Linked DNA regions of Homo sapiens: region 1 is linked to region 2. Evidence: fine-mapped expression QTL. Tissue or cell type: blood mononuclear cells. Region 2 holds a variant in brackets; the other region holds the start of a gene. All regions are shown on one strand. Distances are from middle to middle.

What was found. PIP is the estimated chance that this variant, and not a neighbour inherited with it, causes the effect.
Region 1: ROBO1 starts here. The variant in region 2 is fine-mapped to the expression of ROBO1 in blood mononuclear cells (TOPMed, PIP 0.96).

What each region holds. Positions count from the first base shown.
Region 1 is chr3:79,765,749-79,769,996 of GRCh38, forward strand. It overlaps ROBO1 (roundabout guidance receptor 1), which reads right to left and starts at 2,250. Exons shown (of 31, transcript NM_002941.4): 1 at 2,004-2,250.
Region 2 is chr3:78,845,375-78,849,622 of GRCh38, forward strand. All of the region lies in intron 4 of ROBO1 (roundabout guidance receptor 1), which reads right to left. Among named protein-coding and RNA genes, the nearest start is that of MIR3923, 660 kb to the right of the region's middle. RefSeq lists a silencer at 1,485-1,779. The variant G/A (reference allele first, on the strand shown) is at 1,711.

The sequences.
Region 1 (4,248 bases), 920 kb after region 2:
CTCAATCAGTATATTTCCTTTGATGTGTAGCCTTCAAGTAACTGACAACCCCAAGTGGCCCATTCTATAGGGTCCTGCATCTACGCTCCTTCCTCTGTGCGCTCAGCCCGGGTTGACAAGCAACCTCCAAATTAAACAACCTCCCACCACTACTTGGAAACAGACAACCATCTCTTAACAGGCCTCTGTAACACACAGCTTGATGAAAATCACTTACACAGGGCAGATGACACAGAGGAGTTTACAAGGTCGGGGCACTCCTTGGCGGGGCGTGAAAGGGTGGGAGGTGCTGAGGTCAGGGTTAAACTACCCTGTGAAATGAGCCTCCTGCCCTGCCCTTTCCTCCCTTCATCTATAGAAGGAGCCTCCAGTGAGTTCCTGCGTCTGGAAATCTGCCCCCTTTAGTGCCGCAGACAGGCCAGGGACAGCATTTCAAAGCTCCTCTAAATCAATCCACTTAAAAGAGCCCAGAAAAGCCTGACCATTGACCATAATTGCCCTAAATTGCTTGTTTTCCTTCCCCTCTTGCAGCCTCATCAACATTTCCCTTCTTTCCCCCTTCGTGTCCTTTTTTCTTGGGGGCGCAGGTCCTCTAGATGCTTGGGGTGCACACTAAGGATATTTGAGTAGTGGGAGCTCCGACTCGAGGCAGGAGTGGGATGTCTTAGCATTCCGTCTCCCCCACCCCACCCATCTGCGTGGGACACAGTGACTCCTAGAAGGGTATCCCAGGATTTTAGCGGCCAGGTGTGAGCGCCCTCCACGCGGTCCTCCGAGACCTCAGGGCGCGTGGCAACTGGGCAGAAGCCGTCTCTGCAGCGCCGCTGCCCCGGGTGGAGCGGCAGCCCAGGCTGCAGCAGTGGGGTTGCCACGCCGAGTTTTCCGCATCGGCCGCCCGCAGGGCTCGCCTGCTTCTCCCCATTGTGTTCTCAGAGCTGTGGGACCCAGCCGCGCGCGCAGCCGCACCCGCGCCAACGCTGGAACCGAAGGCTCATGGAAGCGGGGCTGGCAAGATGGGGCAGGGAGAAGGAGCAAGAAGGGGCCCCAGAAGGGCACGGCGTTTCATCAATAATGCAGAGGCTCCTGGACCTCCCTGCAATACGTTTTCCAGCTAAACGCCACCAACTGGAGCGCTTCCTGGTTCGTCCCACTCGTGTGGTTTTTGTGTGTGAAAGATGGGACGCACCTTTTTCATTCATCTGTCTTCTCTCATTCTTCCTCCTTCCCTCCCTCATTTCCTCCCTCAAAGTCCCCGCTGGCTTAGCTTTAAGCTCTCGTCTTCACATCAGCACCATGTTTTCAAGCAAAATCCTGCAGGTTGGAAATGCAAGTGTCAAAAGTCCCCACTGCCTACATACCGCCAAGAGTTTACCAAAATCCACCTAGTAACGCTTATTTTCAAAGCCCCCACGCGCATCCATTCCTGGAGAATGCTTTCAAAGTTTGGAAGCTCCCTGCAGCCTGCCCGTGTCTATGCCTCAGTCAGCTCACATCACGAACAACGGTGCGGTCAGCGGCACTGAGATTAGGCTGCAAAGTTGCCCGGCCCCAGCCCACTACACCGCTGATGCTCGCCGCATCCCTAGAGCAAATTCCGCTGTGTGCCCCCAAGAAGCCAAAAGCGGCACGAAACCTACTCCAACAAGGGTTAGCCCAGCCACACACACAACAAACAAATTCCAAAACTTCTTTGTTAAGCAGCCGCAGCCTACCTGGAACGGACACTCTGCACAACTGGCAAGGAAGAAACAAACATCGCATCCCTGCAGGAAAACTTGTTGAATCCCTCCCGATCGCAAGGCTGCAATTTCCGATTTAGCCTGAAGGTTTTTGATTCTACCCCAAAACACCCTGGCGCATCAGCCACAATTTCTGGATAAACTGCAGAGTCCTCTCGGCAACCATTCTGCACTCCAACAACCACTAGTGTAAAACCCAGCGTGTCCCCTTTTACAAATCAAAAGCCAGCTGTCACTTCCCTTGCAACCATTTCCGAGACTTACCCTTCCATAAGACTGTTTTCAGCAATCTAGAGGCTCCGTAGTGCAGACGCAGCCCTGCAACTTTGCTGTGCACTGAGACCTTTCCGAGTTTAAACCAAGCGAAAGGTGACAGACTTTTAAACCTAAGAGTGGGGAAATAGGGAGAGAGTGAAGTCGGGTTTCTTCTCTGTATCAGCACCCTGGAAAAATTCAATCCTTCTTCAGTAGAGAATTCTTTCAAACCCGTTATCTGTATTACTATTAATGCGCAGAGCAGAAGGCATTGCATACAAATAGGTCCAAGTGTGCGCTTCTATTGGTGGCTGCGGAGGCCCCTGGGTCCTACTGCTCCGGTCTAAACTACACAGCAACACTAGGCACGCAGCTTTGGAGACGCCGAGGGGAAAATGGATTTAATTGATTCGTTACCTCTGGTATTGTAATGCCTGCTGCGATGTTTAACCGAGGGGGGAGGAAAAAAAAAAAAAAAAACCCTTACATTTAACTCCTGTCATGTGATCTATCATTCCATAGCTGCTTTTAATTGTCTGTGTGGAGTGGCTTTGATCATACAAAGGATTTTAAAAGAACATTTTCGAAGGAAAATTCACACAGACACTTTTGGCAGGAAAACCCTCTTTTGCTCTCTATTATGCATTATTCTCATATAAATCCAGGAAATTTTATATAATCAAATACTTCTGCACTTCACGTAGGTACACACAACACCCAATTGTATTTACAATTCATAGCTACTACAAATAAAATACCTTACATGGGTAGTAGATAGTAGAAGCTAAAATATGAGTCTACCAATTATAAAACACGGGTTATATTAGTCAAATGCTACAGAAAAAATTCCATCAATGACAATGGCGTCAGCATCATTTTTACTTCGCAAAATTAGAAATTCAAAAATATTTTCCTTGTAAATATTGACATAAAGATATAAATCAACATAAAGGTATTATAATGTCACAGTATGTCAAGCATTTACTATTAATTGCTACATTATCTTTTTACAGTTTCTCTCTTAGCAAGTTCATTAGTAATGCAAATTGGCATAACAAGGAGATTTAAAGTGAGGCCGACCTGTGGTGACTAGCAATTTGAAATATTGTAATAGTGTGCAAAATCACTTTAGTTCATCATCGGTAAAGCCAGTTATTTTAAGAATTAGAATATTAAATGCTGAATCTTAATATATATTAATTTGAAGTCTTAAACATGCTGTTTTCTTTGACCTTTAATTTTGTGGAGGAAAAGAGAAATCCTTATTTAAACTAAAATGACATAGACTTTCCACAAAATCCTAGATACGATATTTACTGATATTATAATTTAGGAAGTAACATAATTTTATTGTCTTTGATGTAAATAATTGTGATAAATTCCAATTTAATTACAAAATTATTACATATATGTAATGTACAACTGAATGAACATTGTTGGAAAGGGCCACTCTGGATAAGGTTAACATCAACCAACCTATAAATTCACTACCTATGTGTAAACTAAATAAATGAAAACACAATGCAAAAATACAACAGACTCGAGATCTTATTCCAAATACATGTAAAGCATTTGAATTTATGTAGTGTGTGCTACAATCCCTCTTCATTTCCGTAACTCTTTCCCTTTACAGCCCCTTCCCTTCCCCCAATCAGTAACCCTTGACAACAGAAGTGTTAACTTCAAGTCCAGGTTGCCTTTGCTGCCTTCCAGACCTAACTTACAGATTGCATCCTTGTAGGAAACAGAGTTAACTCTTACACGACTGAGAGGTGAAAGAAGAGAGTTTCTTTCAGGGATTAGAAAATCCAGTATTTTTATGTGTATTTGCAAAGTTTGCACCAAACACATATTTTTAAAAATATCCATGATCACTAATTCAGAGTGAAAAGATGTGATCATTGGCATTGTATCAGAGTCAATTTGCTGTATATATCCATTGCTATTGTGTCACTGAAATAGCTTTTGAATAACTTTTATTCAGGGTTACTTCAATCACTTTACTTCAGGTTAATAATTTCTCCATTTACAATAGAGTTAAAATGAAAATACCAAAGTGTTGCAATATTCAGTATAAGGGTATAAAGGACTTTTTTTTAATCTGTAAAAGAAAAGAAAAGCTATTATTTCATATAGTAAGAAAAGCATAATGACCATGCAAAGTTGAATAAAGATGACTGACATTCATCTTATTTCTAAAACAAGTAAATTATTGGTGTTTCAACTTCTTTCTACAAGGGGATCTGAAAAAAAT
Region 2 (4,248 bases):
GATTGTACCTTTTTCCTTTTCCTTTTATTGTTGCTATGATTTAAAATTACACATGTGGCTCATATTTGTAGCTTACAGTATATTTCTCTTGTATTTTATATGTATACACTTTAGTGTGTGATATCTACGTGTGTGTTTATACAGACACACATATATTTCCTAATGAAAAGAAAAATATTTACTGGAAAGAAATTGAATAAATTATAGAAAATATTTTCATAAAGCATACAGAATTTTTTAAAAGGCCCCTCTAAATAATACACAAGCAAATGCTGTCTTTGAATGGCACAGGTTCAAGAATAGGTCACTAGAAGCTAAGCCTAATGCCCATCATGTCTGGGGAACCCCCGGAGGGGAAAGTGGTAGCATGTCTACCTGTTTTAATCCCCCAGTAGCACAAGCAGTTGCTCTGGAAAAGTGCAATAAACTGCCTTTTCAGATAAGGTAATACACGTGATTATGAAGAAAAGCTTTGAAATCCATGCAGTAAATCATTTTTAAAAACAATGTGTTCAGAATTCTTCAGACTAATAAATTATTCTTCCTGTACTCTGGTAGTGTTCCCTACTTCGCTGGTTTGTAAAGGTGGCCCTTGGAGACTCTGAAACATTGAAACCTGGTTTATTTTTATATAACATTTCAAGTACACATAGAAATTAGCCCCAAAGATTTTTTTTTTCCTCTGCCAATTGCCCTAGGATGAGGCTTCTCGCCACTAAACACTAGGGAGATGGTAAGAAAGATATAAATGTAAAATCTAATGTGTAATCTTTTTTGTAATTACAAACAAAACTGCAACATGGAGTTTTAGTTAAGTCACCACATAGTCAGTACAAGTGAAGTTCCAGTGGTAATTTCCTTCATGAAGCCAAGACAAATATAAAAAACAAAGGCTGTTCTTCTTGTCCAGAGGTATTCTTGGAGGTAAATGTCAAATTTTACTCAAATGACTTACAGTCTTATAAATCAGCAGCCATGTTTTTATTTTACTGATAATTTAATTGCAATTAAAATGGATGCAAATCCTCCCCAAACCCCAAGTAAACCAAAGTCCACTCTTAGACATTTCCCTGTGAGTTCAAGCCTTCTCACCAGTAAAGATAATCAATATCATCTTTATTTTTCACGATGGCATCTTTTCACATTTTATTTTGTATCAGAAAAAAGCATTTAAGCCTATTGAAAATATCACTTTATAAATAGAATATTTGAAAATATAATATTTGATTCAGACATTCCACCACTATCAGATCATTTTGAGGATACCAACACAAGATTCTGGTGTTTCTTTTCTTTTTTATAATTGGTCTATATAGACATGTCTACACTATGTCCAAGTGTAGTTAAATATCATCTGTTGACTCCTGACATTATGCTGTTATTACCTTAAAATGGAAACATTCATTTAAAGTATATAAGTGGTGTACTTTTAAAGAACCTTTCTGTGGTTTTCCAAAAGCATTCCAAAGAGGTTACTTACGTTGCTTTGAAACTGGTTTGAGTTATGGGAAGGCCATAGCCTCAGACTAGCAGCTGAGACAGCAAAGGAGATGAAAGTTTTTAGCTTTCAGATCCAAGGGGAAACACAGCTGCTACAGCTGGCCTGCTCAGATCTCAACACTTAGTACAATGATGGAGAAGGCGATAATGCTGTGTCTCAGCTTGAAAAGTGCATTAATAAAAACAATCCTTAAATAGAACAGGGAAATC[G/A]ATTAATCAAATCTAGGCTCCAGGCTGCAAAATGAAATGATTTTTTTTAAAGGCAAGGGAAGGGGAAATCCTCTTAGATTCTTAAAGATATCCACTTCTGAGACATTATCTTGACTAAATGAAATCATATGGAGGATGGAATATAACTTCTTAAGAAACTAAGTTTACCTTGGACAGGTACTTCTAAAGTTTCAACTTACTGTAATAGAAAATGGAAGTTTGGCAAATGTGTATCTTACATAATAGGGACCAGAAATGTGTCAGGCCACCGTGTGTTACTTTTTAACAGCTATACTGCAGAACGCATGTGCAAAGCTGGTAGCTCGTGGAGATTAGTTCCGCCAGAATGTAGAGTACCTGAAGTTGTACCTCAAAATAGTTGTCTAAGGAAGGCAAACATGCCTCCAGGAACCTGTAAGGGAAGCTATGCCAAAATATCTGGGTGGAGCACTTCTCCAAAATAATTATAAATATCAGAAAAATGTAAGACTTCCCTTTTCAAATAATAACACCTTCCTTCGAAGGACTTCAAAAAATTCTAAACAGCCATTATCTTATTAACCTTAACAACTCAGTTAGGTAGGTGAGAGAGTGGTATTATTATACCTATTATTACGATTATTTTAAAGATAAGGGCCCTAATTTGCTAAAGCCACATAACTTCTTCAAGGCCACACAGCAAGTTAAGGTGGAAATAAACCAGAGCAGCTCATCTTGGTCTAGAAATTCTTCACCATTCATTTGCAATGAGTCAGGCTTTCAGGTAAAGTGAAAAGTTAAGATAACGGAATGTATGATACTTCATATACATAAAATGGTTTTAGTATGTGTAGCAACAGTGCATTTAGAAAAAGAGAAATATGACAATAGGCTATAAAATTGATCAAGTAACTAATAATCCTTCTGACTTTTTTTCCCATTTTTTCCTGTCAAAAGGTAACATAAAACCAAACTGTGTGCTTTGATGCTAAGAACACTGTTACTTTTTTGAAAACAAACTGCAGTAACACTGAGAACACAGGAAATATTCTGTTTTTATAGTTTCTCAACAACCAAGGAAATATGTTAGTTCAAACTGGCCTATTAGCTATCTTAAAGGGCAAAATAGATGTTTATTTATTTAACTTATTTATCTACTTTTAAAAGTAGAAATTTTAAAAAAGCTACATCACAACTTCCCTAAGAAATATTAAATTGGCGCAACAGTAATTGCATTACTTTTAAAGGCAAAACCACAATTACTGTTGCACCAACCTAATATTTTCATTCAGTCAATCATTCATTCAACTAAATTTGTTCTAGATTCTGAGGATAAGGTAGTGAACAAAGGCGTCTCTGCTGTCATGGTGATAAGTACTAAGTAGAAAAATTAAAGCACAGTAAAGGGGTAAGAAAGTATACAATGAGGTGCAGGTTGCTGTTATATAGGAGGTCAGGGAATTGTCTTAGCAACTCTTGTACAGCACAGACCTTAGAGAAGGGAGGGGCCAAGTGGGCATCTGGGGATAGAATGGTCCACGCAGAAGGTGTCCTGCAAGTCTAGAGAGAAGTGAGCCACTGTGGGAAAAATGAGGTCAGAAAGGATTAGGTTGGGTGAAGAAGGACAGCGATCATTATCAGGTTTGTAATCCTTCCACAGATCTTGGCTTTGACATAAAGTGAGACTTTATCTTAAAGTCTGTCTAATCTCCAAGTTTAAAGTAGCACATGACCTGACCTACATTGTAGAAGCATCACTCTAGCTGCCTTGAGAAGAAAGAGGGTGTGGGGGCTGGGCAGAGAAAGCCAGCCAGGAGCTAACTTAAGTGGTTATCGCACTAATTTTCAGGTAAAGATGATGGTGGCTCGGTCTACCATAGTAATGGTGGTGGAAAATCAGGATGAGAGGCTGGACATATGTTTAAAGTAGAGATGGCAGAATGTTCTGATGGATTGGATGGGGGGCATGAAAGGAAAGAGAAGAGTCAAGGGTGACATCATGGGATTGAAGTTGAGCAAATACAAGATGGAATTTCTATTTACTGATCTGGGGAATTCCGTGAGTGGAGTAGTCTTTAAATATTTGTTTTGGACACAGTAAGCTTGAGGTGTGTTTTAGATCTTCTAGTGGGCATGATGGGTGGGCAATTCCGTGGAGCAATGCTTTGAAATTATAAAAGTTTAAGGGATCTTAACCAACTCCCTTCACTTACTTGTAGGGAAACATAGCAAATGTTCTCATAAACACATGTTTATTAGAGAGCTTTTGGCAGAAACCTCGGTATTTTGGACCCCAATTTATCTCTCATTTCATTATATCATGTTATAACTACATATGAAAAAATGGTCAAATTTTTATAGGACCTTTTAGGACAGCACTTTCACATGTCTGGCTGAGTGAAAGTGATTTTACTTATCACCCCTTTGGGAGCGCACAAAGCAACAGTTAGTCTCTTTTTGATAGTCTGGAGTTATTATAACAATAACAACTAAGAAAAGTTGAAAATAAATATCACAGAATGTTGTCTTTGTGTCATTTAAAAATAAGTTTTATATATA